Homo sapiens: one gene and its partners. The protein of the gene in region 2 interacts with the protein of the main gene of each other region in a biochemical or structural test. Each region holds a gene or a part of one and is shown on either strand. Other genes may lie near its edges.

What was found. Proteins that work in one complex are often made in the same cells at the same time.
Region 1: of the proteins of LIMK1 (region 2) and MAPKAPK2, one has a biochemical effect on the other in vitro, tested with the Homo sapiens proteins (one study listed by BioGRID and IntAct).
Region 3: the proteins of LIMK1 (region 2) and SSH1 form a complex in vitro, tested with the Homo sapiens proteins (one study listed by IntAct).

Annotation. Positions count from the first base shown.
Region 1 is NC_000001.11:206,729,905-206,734,781, reverse strand, and holds the end of MAPKAPK2 (MAP kinase-activated protein kinase 2), read right to left. Parts: intron 4,811-4,877; coding exon 4,684-4,810; intron 4,095-4,683; coding exon 4,019-4,094; intron 3,645-4,018; coding exon 3,520-3,644; intron 3,143-3,519; coding exon 3,057-3,142; intron 2,944-3,056; coding exon 2,863-2,943; intron 2,745-2,862; coding exon of another isoform or gene 2,691-2,744; exon of another isoform or gene 2,208-2,690; coding exon 2,064-2,207; 3' UTR 501-2,063; downstream 1-500. UniProt on the Homo sapiens protein: Stress-activated serine/threonine-protein kinase involved in cytokine production, endocytosis, reorganization of the cytoskeleton, cell migration, cell cycle control, chromatin remodeling, DNA damage response and transcriptional regulation.
Region 2 is NC_000007.14:74,099,759-74,108,946, forward strand, and holds part of LIMK1 (LIM domain kinase 1), read left to right. Parts: intron 1-6,116; coding exon 6,117-6,222; intron 6,223-6,318; coding exon 6,319-6,485; intron 6,486-7,251; coding exon 7,252-7,435; intron 7,436-8,112; coding exon 8,113-8,199; intron 8,200-9,146; coding exon 9,147-9,188. UniProt on the Homo sapiens protein: Serine/threonine-protein kinase that plays an essential role in the regulation of actin filament dynamics. Acts downstream of several Rho family GTPase signal transduction pathways.
Region 3 is NC_000012.12:108,777,691-108,784,583, forward strand, and holds the end of SSH1 (protein phosphatase Slingshot homolog 1), read right to left. Parts: 3' UTR 501-6,893; downstream 1-500. UniProt on the Homo sapiens protein: Protein phosphatase which regulates actin filament dynamics. Dephosphorylates and activates the actin binding/depolymerizing factor cofilin, which subsequently binds to actin filaments and stimulates their disassembly.

The sequences.
Region 1 (4,877 bases), on a different chromosome or scaffold from region 2:
CCATGAAGTCTCTTCTAGCTCCGAGGTAGAGCCTTTGGTTTCTGCCTGACCCCTATCACCGCCTCCTGGAGAGTGCCGGTACTACACTAACCTGCTCCCCTGGTATCTTTACCAGGATTTCAACCAAATTCACCAGCACCCCCTCTTCCCTGGACCCTATACCAGCTGGCTTTCGCAGGCTAAAGGTGCCAGCACCTGGTGGTGGCTATGTAGGTCAAAGAATCATATGCCAAAAAGAGCTTGGCTCCTGATTCTGCATTTGGCAAAAGAAGATGGGCTTGAGCCCTTGCAGCCTCCCTGTCCTGCTTTAAGGATGCCCTACACACATCCTGCCCAGGTCCTCACCAATGAGGTGCTGGCTCCTGCTCGCCCAGGAGGCCCTCCGCTCCTCTCCCAGGACCCCCAACCCACACCCTCACCACCCAACAAAACCCCTCTGCACATAGAGGCGGTGGGGGGTAAGGCCTGAGCCCCAGGAAGAAAGAGAAAGAAAAACTCTCAACTATTAAATCTGTTTAGTAAAGACAATTTCGCTCATACAAAACAACAGTTTACAACAATCGAGTGCTGGACACACCATCTGAGACAAGGGAGGCGCTGCAGGCACCCAGCGCCTTCCCCCATACACAAAGACGACCCTGGGCGCCCCTCCACCACCTGCCCCTGAGGGAGAGGAAAGGTGAAGTATTCCTGCCACCTCTCCCTCCAAGGGAAGGGGGAGTGGGGGGCCATGGCACAGACAGCCTACCCCAGCTGCTCCTCATCTGTGCTGGGGGAGGCCCCTCCCCTCACCGGCCCCGAAGCTGAGTTGTTTGGGGTGATGGCAAATGGCTGATGGGCAAGGGGGCAAAGTCAGGACATCTTTGGTGCAAAGACTCCCCCTGACCCACCAGGCCACACAATGGAAATCTGAGGGAAGACTTCAAAAGTGGCCCTGCCTTTGCCCACAAGGGGTAGCTGGCTGATGCCCCAGAACCCAGGACAAACACAGGAAATGCAAAAGCTCTGCCAACAGAAGCTGCCCAGGCTCACCTACATGAGCTGGGCGGTGGCCCATGGAGAAATGGCTAAAAATTTAAGGAAAATAAACAAAAATGGGTTAATAATGGCAAGAAGGGGAAGTAGAGAGGTCATTCAGTAGATGAGTGCCTCAGAGGACCTAGGACCAGCACTAAGTGGGGGGAGGGGGGCCCTGGGGGCTGGGGGTCCAGTCTTCCTGATCGCAGTGCCAGTGCCCGGTCACTCCTCTCTGCCTCCCGGAACCCAGCTAATAGAGACAGGCCACAGAGGGCCTGTTTCAGAATCTGGGTGGGCTTCCCAGGCACTTTGGCAGGCTCAGTATGGGCAGGGCAGACCCAAGAAGGGAGAAGGTTCCTAAGCCCCAGCAGGGCCGTCTCCCTCTGCAGCCCTGCCTGCCCCTGGCCCCTCAAATGCACGATCCCAGGCACAGATCTGCGCACTCATACACACGTGTGCACACACACACACACACACACACACATACACTCACTCCTATTTGTCTGGCACACTGGAGATGTCTGAGGGCTCCGAGAGAGGAAGTGCGTGGCATCCTCCTCCAAGGTGGCCTTGAGCTCCCAGAACGCGTGAGCCAGCGGGGACAACCCCAGGCTGTTGTGGAGAAACAGGGAGGGCAGATGGGACAACACAGGGACAATCCCTATGACAGTTTCCACAAATACCCTCTAACAAACCACAAGCCTTTGCAGTATCCAGAGAGGAAGGCGTCTGGTGGAGAGGAGTGGGGCAAGGACAACAAAAGAGGTTTCGTAAAAACTCTAAGTCAAATTACTGATAAAATTGCAAAATGAGCACAGGTTCAAGAGCACCTTGCTCACTTCTCTCCACAGCCTCCCAACCTCCCAGCCTCTCCCACTCTGGGGTGGCCAGAACCAAGGCAGAATTCAGTCACTGATGCAGTTCCAGGCTCCATGCAGCTGAGGAGGAGAGGAGGCAGATGTGGACAGTTCTGTCTCTTCGTTTAAAAAATATATTCCTGTAGAGAGTTATTGCTTGTCCTCCCGTGGGCAGGAGGGCGCGGTGGCTCAGTGGGCCAGAGCCGCAGCCTCCAGGGCCCGAGCTTTCTTCCGCCTCTTCAGCAGCAGAGGGTTGGATGCATCTTCAATCTTTTTTATCTTGATCTGCTCGTAGTCAACGCGCATTGTGGCCAAGGCACTGGTCATCTCCTCCTGGGGGCACGGCAGCACCAGGAAGGGTACAGAGAGAGCCAGAAGACAGGTAGGAGAGACAGCAGAAGAGAGACGTGAGAGACAGAGACAACAAGGGCAGGGTGAGGGCGGCAGGGGTGGGAGCAGAGAGAGAAGACGGGCTGGTTAGTGGTCCACGCTGACAACGGCAGCCTCACCCCAGCGCTGGGCAGCAGAGAGCCTGGCTATGGCACTGCTGCTGTTCCCTGAGAGCCCCCCAGTGATCCCGCAGGATAGGAGGAAGAGACTTGGGCCAGGAGTCAGGAAACCTGGGTCCGGTCTGCCCCAACCAGTCACCAGCTGCGTGACCTTGAGCAGACTGCCCTCCGCCTCTGGGCCTCAGTTTCTCTTCTGCAAAATGAGAAGATGATACCAGATGGTCTTTAAGGTCCCATTAGAGACCCAGGGAATAAAAGGATTCTAAGAAACAGCACTGAGTTTGGACAGGAACACAGAATCCTCTGCTCACAACCTGGTCAGCCAAGTGGCCTGGTCGCTGTTCTTGTCATGAAGACACCCCTGGGATGAGAGAGGCAGAATCAAGCTCTCCCCTACCAGCACCACGCCTCACACCTGGGCACTCCCCGCAAGCCGCCCACCCCACCTGGAGCCCCTCTCACCCAGTGGTGCCCCTCACCTTGACATCCTCCCACCGCTCCTTGTCCTCCTTCAGGACCCGGCTGGTGTGCAGTGGGGTTTGAGGGACCTTTGTTGATTGCTGAGAAGAGAGAAAAGGGGTCCGAGTGAAAGCCTGGGGTAGGGTCCTGGCTAAGACTCTGTCCTGTGGAATAGTCCCGTGAGACCCAAGGCTCCCCAGCCTGCCGAGCTTACCATGATCCAAGGGTGGTTCATAAACTCGGTGATGGTCATTCTCTGGGTGGGCTCTGTTTTCAGCAGATTCCGAATGAGCATCTTCACTGTGGGGTGGGACAGGGGGCAGTGACAGCTCAGGGGTCACTCTCCCTGGCCTGCTCCTTTCCCCAGTTTTCATGGGGAAACCAGGTTCAAAGAGGGGGTGCATGGAGGCAGGCTGCCGGAGCAACTGGCCCCAAGGACCATTACGGCTGTACCACTTGAGAGGCCCTGCACAGCCCCACAGCCTTGGCCCTGCCTCCAGCCCTCCACACAGGCAAAATGAAGCAGGACGCACCCCGCAGGCGTGGGCATAGGTGCTAACCCACAGTTACACCACGCACATGAGATGGAGGCCCATACATGTGTCTGCGTGTACACACATACACACACACACACACACACGGGCTCTTCCCCTTGTCCTGAAAGCCTGGGTTCTTACCTTCCTCTGATACTTCTGACCATTCTGGGTTGGGAAATTCATACTGGCCCATTCGGATGCGAGTCTTCATGCCCGGAGAGATGGCAAGGCCGTGGTTGGAGTAGAAGGGGGGATACCCACACAGCCTGCATCAACAGGAGGAAGGAAGTGGGAGACAGAACAGCTGTCACTTAGTGGCCCTGTACCAGGAACAGGATGAGAAACAGGCTCTTCTCCTTGTAAAGGTCACAGAGAAATCAGGGCTTATTGACACAGGCACAATATACAAAGTCAAGCCCGGGGCCCGGGAATCCAGCATAGCAAGTATCTAAGGCGCACACTTTCCAGCCCATGAGCTGGTTTACACCCGCCACTTAGCTATCGGAACTGAGAGAAGGGGCACGCAGGGGACTCCCCTGTACAAAGGGGAATGCTAACGTCTGCCTCTTCCTCTTGTCCTGGAGAAGTACAGGCCGCCCTGACTCCCTGCCCCACCCAGCCCCCTCCCCAGCACACTCACAGGATGTACATGATGACACCCAGGGACCACATGTCACAGGACTTGTCATACTTCTCTGGACCCAGCACTTCTGGAGCTGCAAATCAAAGGTCAACATGGGTGGGCCGGCCCTCAGAACCCTGTGATCCACTCAGTTTCTCTGTGAAAGATGCTCCCCATCCCAACCTTTCAGCCTATCATGAGGTGGCAGCAGTTGGGGCACAGAAGGAAGAGCCAAAGCCCAGCCCAGGGACTGGAACAGAACATCCTCCTCCATGAGGAACCTGGAACTAGGAGCTTAAGATTCTAAAAATCCTGAACTGCATGAGACTTTCAGGCCCATGCCGTTCATTTAATTTCACAGATGCTCTGAACATGCTTTGAAAGCTTCTTCCATGCCAATCAGCTGTGGCTCCAGAACAAGACCTGGGTCCAGACTCCATGGAGAATCTGATGGAAACCATGGCTCTTCTCAGAAAGATCCCAGCAGATCCTTTCCTACAATTTCTCAACTGTAGCTTCGCTCTGACAAGCCCTACTTCTCAGCAGGTCCCAGCAGAACCAGCACCAGAAGGGGCCATACAGACACAACTCTCCTAGGATTTGCGGCCCCCCAGATAGCCAAGAGGAGGGGCTGAGAAAAGTTCTGGGAAAAGCCTAGGTCCCTGGGCCCCCTGTGGACTTACCCACATAGTACGGTGTATAACAAGGAGTGGTCAAAGAGTTGTGGCTGGTGGTTTCCTTGGCAAAGCCAAAGTCAGTGAGTTTCAGGATGGCGTTGGGCCTTTTGGAGGTGTATAAGAGATTCTCAGGCTACAGAAAGAGAGACAGAAAAATAGCAACCCTGCTGGACCTGGGAGGGGCTATCAGAAACGAAAAG
Region 2 (9,188 bases):
AAAAATAAAAAGACATTTTCTTTAGTCCATGTCTGATCCAACAAGAAAGAGGAGGAACCAAGTCAAGAATGAGTGAAGAAGCTGGGCGCAGTAACTCACACCTGTAATCTCAGCACTTTGGGAGGCCAAAGTGAGAGGATCACTTAAGGCCAGAAGTTTGAGACCAGCTTGGGCAACATAGCGAGACCTGCATGTCTACAAAAAAAAAAAAAAAATTAAAAATTAGCCAGGCATGGTGAAATCACTGAACACATAAAGGCTGGGCATGGTTGCTCACACTTATAATCGAAACACTTTGGGAGGCTGAGATGGGAGGATCACTTGAGGCCAGGAGTTCGAAACCAGCCTGGGAAACATTGTAGTCACAGCTACTTGGGAGGCTGAGGCAGAAGGATCTCTTGAGCCCAGGAAGTGGCTACAGTGAGCTATAATTGCACGACTGCACTCTAGGCTGGGCAATGGAGCAAAACCCTGTCTCAAAAAAATGGGGCAGGGCTGATAAAGATTAGATTACTGTGTGACTTTGAGCAGCTGCTTTCTCTCTAGGCTTTGGGGGTCTGTTTGAACAATGAGGGAGTTGGATACCTTGGAGCTTTCTAAGATTTCTGTGGCGCCTTTATTGACACCTTGAGAAGTAGCATGCAGTGTTTCTACTTTTGGGCAATTGGTCACTTCTTTTTTTTTGAGACAGTCTCACTCTGTCGCCCAGTCTGGGGTGCAGTGGTGTGATACCAGCTCACTGCAACCTCCACCCACAAGGTTCAAGCAATTCTTGCACCTCAGCCCCCTGAGTAGCTGGGACTACAGGTGACCACATGTGGCTAATTTTTGTATTTTTAGTAAAGACAGGGTTTCACCATGTTGGCCAGGCTCGTTTCAAACTCCTGGGCTCAAGTGATCCTCCCTTCTCGGCCTCCCAAAGTGCCGGGATTACAGGTGTGAGCCACCGTGCCCGGCCCAAGTGCTAGCTTTCTCTCTCTCTTTTTTTTTTTTTCGAGACGGAGTCTCGCTCTGTCGCCCAGGCTGGAGTGCAGTGGTGTGGTCTCGGCTCACTGCAAGCCCCGCCTCCTGGGTTCACGCCATTCTCCTGCCTCAGCCTCCCGAGTAGCTGGGACTACAGGCACCTGCCACCATGCCCGGCTAATTTTTTTTTTATATTTAGTAGAGACAGGGTTTCACCATATTAGGCAGGATGGTCTCGATCTCCTGACCTCGTGATCCGCCCGTCTCGGCCTCCCAAAGTGCTGCGATTACAGGCATGAGCCACCACGCCCGGCCCTACCAAGTGCTAGCTTTCATTTGACGCAGTGAATGTTTCTTGTACACCTGGCAGGTGCCTGGCACTGCATAGGCACTGTTGAGATGTGAAGGTGGCCCTGGGGACAGAAAATTATACTGGGCTTGACTGTGTGTCTCCATCCCTTGACATCAGCCAAGCCAGCAGCTGCTTTACATACATGATGAGCAGACAGCTGCTTGAAAGAGATGAGGAAACTCCCAGACCAACGGCTCTTACCAGAGGGCCAAGGGAGGTCCCCACAGAGTCAGAGGCTGCAGCTGGTCCCTGAAATCCAGGCAGAATTTTAGAAATGAAGACAGTCAGCTGGGTGCAGCGGCTCATGCCTGTTATCTCAGCCACTTCGGAGGGCTGAGGTGAGAGGATTGCTTGAGCCCAGGAGGTGGAGGCTGCAGCAAGCTATGATGACACCATGCATTCCAGCTTGGGCGACAGAGCGAGACCCTATCTCTAAAATAAAAATGAAGAAGACAGTTAATGACGTCTCCTCCCTGTCTGCCTCACTGGGTAAGCATTCGCCCAGCCAACATCTGGAACATCCCAGTTCTGCAAAGAGCCACACCCTTCCCAGAAAGAGCCCAACTTGCCAAAGATTTACTTATTTGTTTTAAACTGGTTTTAGTTGACCGCTTTTCATTTTGTGTATAGCAGCGTTTTAAGGAAGGTCTAATTTATCCAGGCCACCTGCTGCTTTAGCAAACCAAGGGAGAGGATGTGAGATTCTAAGGAATTTACATATGTATGTCATATATATATATATATATATATAGACACACAATTTTTTTTTGAGACAGGGTCTTGCTCTGTCATACAGGCTGGAGTGCAGTGGCACAATCATAGCTCACTATAGCCTCAGATGCCTGTGCTCAAGCAATCCACTCACCTCGGCCTCCTGAGTAGTGAGACTACAGGCACACACCACCACACCCAGCTAATTTTTTAATTTTTTGTAGAGACTGAGTCTTGCTGTGTCGCCCAGGCTAGTCTTGAACTCCTGGGCTCAAGCAATCCTCCCACATTGGCTTCCCAAAGTGCTAGGATTACAAGCGTGAGCCACTATGCCTGGCTTATTTTTAAGGTTATATGCATGCAAAGCCTGTATCAATGAAAATATTTTCTTTGGTTTTTTTCAACTTTTCATCTTCGCATTTTGCAGATTTATAGAAAATTTGCTAAAATAATAAGTCCATTGAATACATACACACCCTTCACCAAGGTTCACCAATTCGTAACTGCCATATTTGGGAGTTATATGTGTGTCTCTCTATATATACATATATGGATACAGATACATATACATGTTTAGTGACTTGTTTATATTTGTACATACATGTACATGTTGTTATTTATTGATCGTTTGGGAGTAAGTTGCAGGGATCATTGACTCCCCCACAATTATGCTAGATATTCTCAAAAGAAGGACCTTCTCTTTTTTTTTTTTTTTTTTGGAGACAGGGTATCACTGTCATTGAGGCTGGAGTGCAGTGATGCGATCACAGCTCACTGCAGCCTCAACCTCCCAGGCTCAAGTGATCCTCCCACCTCTGCCTCCCAAGTAGCTGGGACTACAGGCACGGGCCACCACGCCTGGCTAGGCATTCTGTTATGTAATTATCAATTGTATCTTATAGTTCAGTGATCACATTTTGGAAATGTAACATTGATACCATTATCTAATACACAGACCATATTCAAATTTTGCCTATTGTCTCTATACTGAACTACTGAGCTGTCCTTTATAGCAATCTCCCCCTCATCCACAGTCCAGTCCATGATCAACATTGCATTTAATCGTCATGTGTCATCAGTATCTTTTTTTTTTTTTTTTTTGAGACGGAATTTTGCTCTTGTTGCCCAGGTTGGAGCGCAATGGCGCAATCTTGGCTTATTGCAACCTCCGCCTTTGGGCTTAAGTGATTCTCCTGCCTCAGCCTCCTAAGTAGCTGAGATTACAGGCGTGCACCATTATGCATGCCTAATTTTTGTATTTTTATTAGAGACGGGGTTTTACCATGTTGCCCTGGCTGGTCTTGAACTCCTGACCTCAAATGATCCACCCACCTCAGCCTCCCAAAATGCTGGGTTTACAGGCATGAGCCACTGCGTCTGGCCATTTCCTCAGCCTTTCATTGCCCTTCATGATCTTGACATTTTTGAAGTGTACAGGCCAGTCATTAAAGTAAAATGTTTTTCCTTTTTTTTTTTTTTTTTTTTAAAAAGAGACAGGGTCTCACTGTGTTGCCCAGGCTGGTCTCAGACTCCTAGGCTCAAGTGATCCTCCCGCCTCAGCTTCCCAAAGTGCTGGGATTACAGGCGTGAGCCATCGTACCTGCCCTCGCATTTGGGTTTGACTGATGTTTCCTCTTAGGGAGACAGGCTCTGCAGGTTTGGCCTGATACTGCATAAGTGATCCTCTGTCCTTCCGAGTGGATCTTGCCAGGAGACATATGATGTCAGTGTGCCCTTTGCTGAGGATGTTCACTTTGATTACTTGTTTTTTCTGTACTGTAAGGATTTTTTTCCCTTTGTCATCAATAAACCATTTGTGAGATTTGAGTCTGTAAATATCCTGTTCCCAAAAACCCTTCCCCAAATGATTTGAGCATCTATTGATGATTCTTGCCTGTAGCGATTATTACTAGGGTGGCTACCAAATGCTGAATTTCTAACTCTGTTCTTCCTTCTGCATTTGTTACTGTAAGGAAGAGCTTCTCCCCCATACGAGAATAGTCTTTTTGTTTGCTTGGTTGTTTTTTTGAGATAGGGTCTCACTCTGTTGCCCAGGCTGGAGTGCAGTGACATGATCATAGCTCACTGCAGCCTCGACCTCATGGGCTCAAGCGATCCTCCTGCCTCAGCCTCTCGAGTAGCTGGGACTACAGGCAGCACCACCATGCCTGGCTAATTTTTTATTTTTTGTAATGGTGAGGTCTCACTATTTTGCTCAGGCTGGTCTCGAACTCCTGACCTCAAGTGATCTTCCCACCTCAGCCTCCCAAATAGCTGGGATTACAGGAGTGTGCCACCATGCTCAGCTAATTTTCTGTAAAAAATGTCATAGAGATGGGGTCTTGCTATGCTGCCCAGGCTGGTCTCAAACCCCTAGTCTCAAGCAATCCTCCCACCTTGGCCTCCCAAAGTGCTGGGATTCCAGGCATGAGCCACCACACCTGGCCCTGTTTTTCTTAAAGTTCTCAGTCTCCTCTCTGCCTTACCCCCATCCCCTTTTCCATCTCCAGGACCTAGGGCAGAGACAAAGTGAGCATTCCCTAAAAAGCTTTTATGAGGCAAAATGAAAACCAGCTCACGCCTATAATCCCAGCACTTTGGGAGGCCAAGGTGGGTGGATTACCTGAGGTCAGGAGTTCAAGACCAGCCTGACCAACATAGAGAAACCCCATCTGTACTAAAAATACAAAATTAGCCAGGCATGGTGGCACATGCCTGTAATCCCAGCTACTCAGGAGCCTGAGGCAAGAGAATCACTTGAACCTGGGAGGCGGAAGTTGCAATGAGCCGAGATCACTCCATTGCACTCCAGCCTGGGCAACAAGAGCAAAACTCTGTCTCAAAAAAAAAAAAGAAAAGAAAAGAAAACCAGGTCCCTAACACCGAAGAGTTAAAAGAAATAAGTAAATTTGGCAAATTGGTCTTTTTGTGAGTTAGCTTATAGGCAACTGATCGAGGGTCTCTTTCCCGTCTTCACCCTGCAATTGTGGCTCAGGGCAAGCTGCCAGCTCCCTCCTGCCAATGCAGGAGCAATAGAGCTTGGCCTCCTCTTGCAGGGCGAGTTTGGGAGTCAGATATGAAGCCACTAATCCGGGACCTTTTTGGGACCCAAGGCACTCATCTGCCCCAAGCATACCAGGCAGGCCAGGTGCAATGACTCATGTCTGTAATCCTAGCACTTTGTTTTTGCGACGGAGTCTCGCTCTGTCCACCCAGGCTGGAGTGCAGTGGCAGAATCTTGACTCACTGCAACCTCCACCTCCCAGGTTCAAGCAATTCCTGCCTCAGCCTCCCAAGTAGCTAGGACTACAGGCGCCCACTGCCACGCTCGGCTAATTTTTGTATTTTCAGTAGAGACGGCGTTTCACCATGTTGGCCAGGCTGGTCTCAAACTCCTGACTTCAAGTAATCCATCCACCTTGGCCTCCCCAACTGTTGGGATTACAGGTGTGAGCCACTGCGCCCGGCCAGTCCTAGCCCTTTGGGAGGCTAAGGCGGGCGGATTGCATGAGCTCAGGAGTTCGAGACCAGCCTGGGAAATGTGGTGTAACCCCGTCTCTACTAAAAATACAAAAAAAATTAGCTGGGTGTGGTGGTGTGCACCTGTAATCCCAGCTACTCAGGAGGCTGAGGTACGAGAATCGCTTGAACTCAGGAGGCAGAGGCTGCAGTGAGCTGAGATTGTGCCATTGCACTCCAGCCTGGGTAACAGAGTGAGATTCTGTCTCCAAAAAAAAAAAAAAAAAAAATTCGAGACCAAACATACCTGGGATTTGGAAGGATAGATCTGTTCCCCCAGGGTGGAGACAATGGTCCATTGAATGGGAACAGCTGAGCATCTTGTGTGGGTGGCCAGTGCCTACAAGCGTGCCACCTTTCTCCAGCTCACACCTGTGGCAGACATCAGTAATTGATTACAGAATTCCTCCCCTGAAACCAGAACTCGGTGTTCTGGCCATCTGCTACTTCCCAGTCACACGAAGTAGAATCCTCCACCTGCTCACCCTGGATCTGGTGCCCTTCGCCTTGGTTTCCTGTTGGGGCTCTGAGGGACAGGTGGGCACTGGCCTGACCCCTGCCTTACCCACAGAGTGGATCCGGGCTGCATGAGCCCAGATGTGAAGAATTCCATCCACGTCGGAGACCGGATCTTGGAAATCAATGGCACGCCCATCCGAAATGTGCCCCTGGACGAGGTACGGTCCTGAGTCTGTGGGGCAGGACGGGAGGTAGTGCCTTCATGCCTAGCCCCCTCCCCACTCCACCCCCATTCACATGCCTGCTGTCCCCAGATTGACCTGCTGATTCAGGAAACCAGCCGCCTGCTCCAGCTGACCCTCGAGCATGACCCTCACGATACACTGGGCCACGGGCTGGGGCCTGAGACCAGCCCCCTGAGCTCTCCGGCTTATACTCCCAGCGGGGAGGCGGGCAGCTCTGCCCGGCAGAAACCTGTCTTGTAAGTCAGCCTGCTCCTCGGTTCAGCTGGGTGCTTTCACTCCTGCTGGGGCTCAGGGGCTGTGGGACCTAGGTCGGGGAGCCAGCCCTGCACAAATGCAGCCCAGGCTTGAGCCAGGGAGGTGGAGGCTGCAGTAAGCTGTCATCACACCACTGCTCTCCAGCTTGGGTGACAAAACAAGACCCACTCTCAAAAAAAAAGAGGAAACACACATTTTTTAAAAAGCCGGGGACGGGGCCAGGCGTGGTGGCTCATGCCTGTAATCCCAGCACTTTGGGAGGCCGAGGCAGGTGGATCACCTGAGGTCAGGAGTTCAAGACCAGCCTGGCCAACATGGGAAACCTCATCTTTACTGAAAATACAAAAATTAGCCGGGCTTGGTGGCAGGTGCCTGTAGTCCCAGCTACTCAGGAGGCTGAGGCAGATGAATCACTTGAACCCAGGAGATGGAGGTTGCAGTGAGCCAAGGTCACGCCACTATACTCCAGCCTGGGCAACAGTGTGAGACTCTGTCTCAAAAAAAAAGAGGATGACAGAGCAGGATCTGAGGGGTTGAGGGGAGCTGGGGGCTGCCACTAGAGCCAGGATAGGCCGAGACACTGGGATGGGCAGCCTTTGGACTGTCCCAGGCGGGCCCTCCCAAAGCAGGGGGTGATTGCATAGACTGGCATGGACAGGGGCATGCAGGCAGGAGGAGGAAGGGGCAGGGCCTTGGCCGGGTGCTACCTGTCCCCCGGTGGCACTTGGCACCATGTGTGCCCCCCAGGAGGAGCTGCAGCATCGACAGGTCTCCGGGCGCTGGCTCACTGGGCTCCCCGGCCTCCCAGCGCAAGGACCTGGGTCGCTCTGAGTCCCTCCGCGTAGTCTGCCGGCCACACCGCATCTTCCGGCCGTCGGACCTCATCCACGGGGAGGTGCTGGGCAAGGGCTGCTTCGGCCAGGCTATCAAGGTACAGAGCATGCCAGGGTCTCAGGGGACAGTCTGGGTGGGACCCCTCCATCCTCCTTCCTTCCCAGTCTATGGAAACACAGTGGAAGGGGTATCTGGCTTCCAGACTCCCTGGCCAGTGCCCTCTCCTCCCTTGGCCTCCTGGAGCTAATTAGGAACAGGGGACCTCCTACAGGTAGACTGAGACCTTATGTGCGGGAGGTCATTGAAAGGTGGCTCCTAGCCAGGCACAGTAGTTTATCCCTGTAATCCCAGCACCATGAGAGGCTAAGGCTGTAGGATCGCTTGAGCCCAGGAATTCAAGACCAGCCTTGACATCATCTCTACAAAAAATTTAAAAATTAATTGGGTATAGTGGTGCATGCCTGTGGTCCCAGCTACTTGGGAGGCTTAGGCAGGAGGATTGTGAGCCAGGAGTTCAAGGCTGCAGTGAGCTATGATCATGCCACAGCACTCCAGCCTGGGCAATAGAGCAAGACCCCATCTCAAAAAAAAAAAAAAAAAGACAAGGGATTAATACATCCCATCCACTTGGGTATTTGGGAACATCCCATGCACAGCCTAGAGTATGAAGCCATCTGCACATCTCCCTGGCAGTCCTGGGGTGGAGATGGGGCTTCCTAGAAGGCGGGCTTACAGCAGAGCTTCTGTCTTCACACCTCTGTGTCCCACACGCAGGTGACACACCGTGAGACAGGTGAGGTGATGGTGATGAAGGAGCTGATCCGGTTCGACGAGGAGACCCAGAGGACGTTCCTCAAGGAGGTCAGTGAGCGGAATGCCCTCTTCCCTCCAGAGGGACTTCCAGGTGCTCACCCCTGCCCCATCAACACAGGTCGGAAAAGGGCTCTGGGAACCATTGAAAGAAGAGCGAGCAGGCCAGGCATAGTGGCTCACGCCTGTAATCCCAACACTTTGGGAGGTTAAGGAGAGAGGATACTTTGAGACCAACCTGGGCAACATAGCAAGACCCCGTCTCTACAAAAAAATTTTAAATTAACCGAGCTTGGCAATGTGCACCTGTCATCCCAGCTACTCGGGGGGCTGAGGTGGGAGGCTCGCTTGAGCCCAGGAGTTGGAGGCTGCAATGAGCCATGATCGCACCACTGCACTCCAGCCTGGGGAACAAGGCAAGACCCTGTGTCCAAAAAAAATAAAAGTAACTGCATTGGTCGGGCATAGTGGCTCACGCCTGTAATCCCAGCACTTTGGGAGGCTGAGCCGGGCGGATCACCTGAGGTCAGGAGTTCGAGACTACCCTGGCCAACATGGCAAAACCCCGTCTCTACTAAAAATACAAAAATTAGCCCAGCATGATGGTGGTGAGTGCCTGTCATCCAGGCTACTCAGGAGGCTGAGGCAGGAGAATTTCTTGAACTCAGGAGGCGGAGGTTGCAGTGAGCCAAGATCGTGCCGCTGCCCTCCAGCCTGGGCGACAGAGTGAGACTCCTTCTCAAAAAAAAAAAAAAGAAAAGAAAAAAGAAAGTAACTGCAGGCAGGGGACTGGGAAAAAGAGCATCGCTGGGGGTGGGGGCAGCTCAAGCAGAGGGCACAGGACGCCAGAGGGTGTGGCAGAGGCAGGAGAGGGGAGCTGGGGGTTCCGTATCTTTGAGACCGCCTACAGCCCCTGGTGGGATGGAAAAGGGAGAAGCAGACCCAAGCACAGCTGGGACCACACAGAGCCCGGGCCCAGCCTGTTTGTGCCCCGCCAGGTGAAGGTCATGCGATGCCTGGAACACCCCAACGTGCTCAAG
Region 3 (6,893 bases), on a different chromosome or scaffold from region 2:
TGGAATACGAAATTAATATAACTGAGGTTTTCCCTCAAATCCTATGCTTTTAAGCTAATGATTCTACAGTCCTAGAACCTTTTTTTTTGTTTTTTTTTTTTTTTTTAAGAGACAAGTTTTACTTTGTTGACTAGGCTGGAGTACAGTGGTGCCATCAAAGCTCACTGCAGTCTCCAACTCCTGGGCTCAAGCAATCCTCCTGCCTCAGCCTCCCCTTTAGAGTAGCTACATCTATAGGCACATGCCCCCACACCCAGCTAACTTTTAAAGTTTTGTGGAGATGGGGTGTTGCTTTCTTGCCCAGGCTGGTCTTGAACTCCTGGCTTCAAGCAATCCTCCCACCTCAGCCTCTCAAAGTGAGAGGACTGCAGGCATGAGCCACTGTGCCCAGCCTGCAACTAACACTTATGGTTATCAATACTCCCTCCCTTAGTTAACTGTCTTAGGTATCATAATAGCCTTTCTTATATGTATCAAAACTCATACTGAACAACAAGTTCTCAGTTGCAAAAGGAGATTTATTGTTTGCACCTGTCTATAAGTACTTGCCCACAAGTTAAACAAACGCACGCATAAGTCCACAGGGGCTCCTTTTCATGGCATATCTCATTTACTCCCTCACTCTCTCAGCATCTGTTGAGCATCTACTGCCCTCTAAGCATTGCACACATGCATTAGGGACTATTTTCCTTGGGGAGAAGATGGTGGGGTAGAAATTGCATGAATTTGGAGTCAGGCACTCCCAGCCTCTGCCCCTTCCTGGCTGTGTGTCCCTGACCCACGTTACCTAACCTCTCTGAGCATCCACTGCTTCCTCTGTAAAACAGAATCATATCTGCGGTGAGGATTAACTTGGTAATACATGTGAAACCCTTGCAACTAGGAATATATCCTCCAATTCCAACAATAACAACCACCATTTATTTATTAGGTAGTGTGCCAGGCAGAAGGGGATTTGCATGCATTATCAGTGAATTCACCAATGACCCCATGAAGTAGGTAGCATTGTCAGTTTGTTCTGATCCAATTTCAAGAGCAAGAGGGAGGTCTACCACCACCACCACCACCACCACCACAATGTACCATTTGTGGGATAATTTGTCTTTTTAAAATCTTTTATTTTTATTTGTTTTTGAGACACGGTCTTGCTCTGTTGCATAAGCTGGAGTGCAGTGGTTCGATCTCGGCTCACTGCAACCTCTGCCTCCCAGGCTCAGGAGATCCTTCACCTCAGCCACTCAAGTAGCTGGGACCACTGGCACACCACCATGCCTGGCTAATTTTTGTATTATTGGTAGAGATGGGGGTTCACCATGTTACCTGGGCTGGTCTTGAACTCCTGGGCTCAAGCAATCTGCCTGCCTCGGCCTCTCAAGGTGTTGGGATAACAGGCGTCAAGCCACCGTGCCCAAATTTGTCTTTTAGAGTCGGATGCTGGAGCATCCTCTCCTAGGCTGGGAGGTTGCTAATGTAAATGCCACACTGTATTTGCTGAAGTGGTTTACAAAAAAAAGGAATTTCAGGTTGAAAATGGACTCTTAACAAGGTACTTCAGGATGCACAATTTCCATTTAAAGGCAAAATATGGTGAATATGATCTACGGGAAAGAAACACACCTTGTGTCACCCCAATAGCCTTTGGAGCAAGAAGTGGGTCCAATTTCCCAGGGGCTGGGGGCTTCATCTCCAACTCATCTGCTTCCTTGCTGAAACCACAAGGGAGATCAAGATGCATCTTTGTCTGGCTTCTTTCTACTTCTGGGGTGGGAGAGACAGCTCTGGGAAGGGTTTCAGATGATGAGGGAGCAGTTCCTATCTGGCTTCATCAATTTTTAGATGTACCTGTAGGCAAATTACTTCCACTCTGTGGGCCTGTTTTTTCATAAACTGAGAATAATGCCAACAAGGCAGTTAATAGAAGGATCCCAAGGTAGTCCAAAGAGTTCAAGAAAGTTAGAAAAAGGACTCTCCTCTACCTTTTTTTTTCTTTTTTTTGTTTTTTGAGACAGAGTCTCACTCTGTCACCCAGGCTGGAGTGCAGTGGTGCAATCTTGGCTCACAGCAACCTCCACCTCCTGGGTTCAAGCGATTCTCCTGCCTCAGCCTCCCGAGTAGCTGGGATTACAGGCGCCCGCCATCATGCCCGGCTAATTTTTGTATTTTTAGTTGAGACGGCGTTTCACCATGTGAGCCAGGCTGGTCTTGAGCTTCTGACCTCAAGTGATCCACCTGCCTTGGCTTCCCAAAGTGCTGGGATTACAGGCGTGAGCCACCGTGCCCAACCCTCTCACCTCTTTTGAGATATGCATCACAGACCACAATGCCCAGTTTGGAGAATTCCAGGGGATTCTTTATGTAAAGCACATAGAAGGTATGTGATAAACATAACCTGGTTTTAGGAGGCAAGGATGCGTGGGTGGGTGGTGTTTCCTGGGTGGAGCTCTCCTTTAGAAAGGGCTTCTTTACCATAAAGTGAATCCCCCTAAGTTCCAAGCCGTCCTCTGTGCTGCCTTTGGAGCCTCTCCCGAACATCTTGCCAAGAGGGGGTTCCCCAGGCATAAACACAAACAAGCATGCGGATCCTCCCCAGCAAAACCACCTCCACTGTAGATGTGATCTGGGATCGTGCCCAACCGCGAGACAGTTACTCTGAGGAGGAAATCAGGGCAAAAGCAGCCCATTACAGGAATATTGTCCTAGGGCCTTGAACAAATAAGTATCGGATGAGTTTTATGAACACACATTGTTAGGGTAGTGTGGGTGTTGTCTCCAAAAAGCATGTGTGCAATGTAATTAGCAAAGCGTGAGCCTACTCAGTTGCATCATATTCTTATTTTGATGGTTTCTAAACTTGGCCATCAGAATTCCCAGGGAATCTCAGAAACATACAGATTGCTGGGGCCCATCCCACCCCATTCATGGCTGGAACCCAAAGAGAATTTGTTAGCTATCTTCAACCTTGCCAGAGAACAGTGTCTTGAACCATGACCCTCAGTGATTTGTTTTTAAAACATTTTACAGAGAGGGCTGCATTATAGCTTGATAACACTATTAGAAGCATCCTGTGGCTTGGCGCGGTGGCTCATGCCTATAATCCCAGCACTTTGGGAGGCCAAGGCGGGTGGATTACCTGAGGTTGGGAGTTTGAGAACAGCCTGACCAACATGGAGAAACCCCATTTCGATTAAAAATACAAAATTAGCCAGGCGTGGTGGCACATGCCTGTATTCCCAGCTACTCGGGAGGCTGAGGCAGGAAAATCACTTGAACCCAGGAGGCAGAGGTTGCGGTGAGCTGAGATCACACCATTGCACTCCAGTCTGGGCAACAAGAGCTAAACTCCATCTCAAAAGAAAAAAAAAAAAGAAGCATCCCACTAAACTTTTAATATTCAATAAGCAATTCTTAACCAAAATTTGGCACCCCATAGAGATTTACCTAGAAGGGGCTGGGCACAGTGGCTCATGCCTATAATCTCAACACTTTGGGAGGCTGAGGCAGGAGGATCATCAGAAACCAGGAGTTCAAGACCAGTCTGGGCAACATAGTGAGACCCTATCTTTTAAATAAATAAATAAATAAATTTAGCTGGGTGCAGCAGTGTGTGGCTCTGGTCCCAGCTACTTGGGAGGCTGAGGCAGGATTGCTGGAGCCCAGGAGATCAACACTTCAGTGAGCCATGACTGCCACTGCACTCCAGGCTGTCTCAAAAAAAGAAAGACTTACCTAGCAGGACTAAATGTGCTAATCAGCATGTGAGCAATCTGGTCTGCTTGATGATTATAATTCTTTTGGTAAAGTAATAAACTTGCATTCTGGTTTATTCATCAGTCTTTTGAGTCCAGTTGAGAGACAGAGCAAGTCCAGATGAACTGAACAAAATACTTCCTGGCTCTGCAGGCACTGGAATTTAGGGGTCACGCCCAGGTACTTGTGACAGTTAGTGCTCACCAAATACATGTGCCCCATACATTTCCCAGTCTCCCTGGCTGTTGCATTGGGACCCTGTGACTGGGCCCTGCCCACTGGAAAGCAAGTAGAAATGATGTATCGCATCCAGACAGAGGAGACTGAGTGAATGTGACTCCTCCCTGACTACACAGCAGAAAGCAAAGAACTCTAAGGAGGCAGAATTTTAAGATGGAAGTTGAGGTGGCTCACACCTGTAATCCCAGCACTTTGGGAGGCCAAGGTGGGAGGATCACTTGAAGACAGGAATTAAAGACCAGCCTGGGCAGCAAAGCGAGACTTCATGTCTATAATAAATTGTAAAAATTAGCGGGGCAAGGTGGTGCACGCCTGTAGTCCCAGCTACTGGGGAGGCTGAGGTGGGAGGATTGCTTGAGGCAGGAGGATCACTTTAGCCTAGGAAGTCGAGGTTGCAGTGAGCTATGATGGCACCACTGAACTCCAGCCTGAGCAAGAGAGCCAGACCCAGTCTCAAAAAAAAAAAAAAAAAAATTAAAAAAAAAAAAATGGAAGCAGCTCTGCCTCCTGAGTGTCCAAGGGAGAAGAGCCACCAAAAGCTGCCTGGGGTGAAGTGGACTGGGACATGAGCATGCACCTTGGAAACCAGCAGTACTTAGCCTCCAGGGTCCTCCCTCTCCCACCAGGGCTGGTGGGAGCAGGTTAGATGTTCTTTAGTGCACACCTCTGGCTTTACATTTCCTACTTGTACGGGAAGAGAACCCACCCAAAGTCCAAATCCTTTCCTGGTGGGTAACTTTTTTTTTTTGGTACACAAAGGACCACCCACAGGTGGGCCTGTTCTTGCTTACTGACAAAATTAGAAAGAAAACAGACTAGTTCCAGGAGGAACTATCATTTCTTCCTGTGGTCCTTTCTTTGGTGTAACTTGTCCAGGTTTTCTAGCAAAGAACTGAGCATGTAATAGATGCTCAATAAAGACTGGCCATGTCAATGACGATGATGATGACGATGTATCAGACTGTTTTGGCAAGGGCTGAGGAAGCAGTTTCCTTTTATATAAACTCAGTCATCAGGAATTTATAAAGAAAAAGTTTATTTTCATCACAAGAAGCACACACACTATATACAATACACACCAACAGAAGTAAAAAAAAAGTGCATTCTGCATCTTCTACTGCAAATTCACAGTACAAAAGATACTGCCTTTAAATATATTATTTAAAAAAACAAGAAGAAAAACAATAAAAAAAATCATCGATATCTTAACGCAATTCACGGGAACCCACTGGCAGCTTCTGGAAAACCAAACAACTCATGGTGTGGAGCTCCTGATTGGGGAAGGGACAGGGATTGGTCTGTACCTACATTTTGTTGCAAAAGAGCTCAGGACACTAACAGAGAGGAAAACTAGGGTGGTCTAGGTGGTAATAAAATCTCTATGAAAGAAGAGTATGATTGTGTGACTGGGGAATGGGCAGGTGCTGGACTCTGGTGCAGAGGCTGCCTGGCCTGCGCCACCCCACGGCTGGCTAGCAGACCAAGCTACGTTCTTTCATTGGCTCCTATGGGACACAGCATGGGCCAATGCCTGCCTGGCCTGCAGGAACCGCCAGTGTTGTTTCTAGCAAGGCTCCTTGGAATAGATGTGAACACACAATGTAAAACTGCATAGCAGGATAAACACGTATGGAGTAGGACAAGCTCACAACCCAATGCTGACCACTACTGACAAGACCAAGTATCCAATCATAACAGATGAGACTTTAACAGTTTTGCATAAATACATAGTATTTGTAAACTATTATTAAGGCACTCAATTGTAAAACAATAATTACAGTGTAGGAAAAGAGGGAGGAAGCAGCTATCTTCTCATGCAGCAAGGCCGACAGGAAGGACAGTGGAGGACTGGTGATCTGCTTATCGGGACTCCTGTCTGAGACAGTGACTGAAGCCGGGGCCCCAGCACCTATGGCCAAACAAGAAGACGGCAGTCTCTCCAGAACCACCCAGGGCGGCACTGGTCACAGTTTCATTCCAGATCGTTAAGGTGATTTGCTCTGTGGCTCAGGTGACACAGTGTGTCTGGATGCACATGATCACTTGACTCGGTTTCTATACTCAAATATACAGATGCAGAGTGAACTCAAACACACAGGCATTCCACTGCAGAGCAGATGATAACAAAACAAGTGGCTGGGGACAGGGGTCATTCAACAACCTTCATTTGGTTTGCAATGTCTGCAGGAATCTGGGTAGTGGGACCAAGACAAGTGAGCCTGCTCTGTGCTAGCCAGGTGTCACCAAGTTTCTGATCTACCCAGCTCTCTTGCCAGAGGTGAAGGGGGTCCCCTCGCTGAGTTGCGTGTTTAGAGGAGCCCTGCTAGGTGGCCAGCCAATGAGAAGAGTTTTGGGCAAAATGTATTCTGGCACCAACAATTTCCCACCAATGGAAGGCAACTCCCTCTCCAGATGCCTCAGGTGAGATGACTTAATAGGATCTTGACTAAATTATGTAGCATTTGTTCCCACTAGAGAGAAAAGGTCCCCAGGAGAGTGGTAGGGAAATTCATCAACCTTCTAGAATGGACTGCCCTCAGATAAGAGTGCATTAGTCCAGGGCCGTGCTGAGGGTCTGTTCTGTTCAAGCTCAGCTCCACACTGCTGCAAACTCTGGACTTCTCCAGGGGAAAAGGGCTTTAGATTACTGGAATGCTCTTTAGCTGAAGAGGACAGGGTGGAGCAGAATGGGCTTGGACAGTACAGCTGTCTGTGTGCACCTGGTGAGCAATCTGTATGCTTAAGCAACAGGGTGCCAAGGAGAAGGGCTTGCCACCCAGCAGAGAGCTATTCAACAGCCCAGAGGTTGGCTGGGGTCCCTGCATGGAGAGCAAGGAAGCAGGGAATGTAAAGAGAAATAAACTCTGCTCTTAGGAAATACATGCAACCAGGGACCTTGCTAGAAG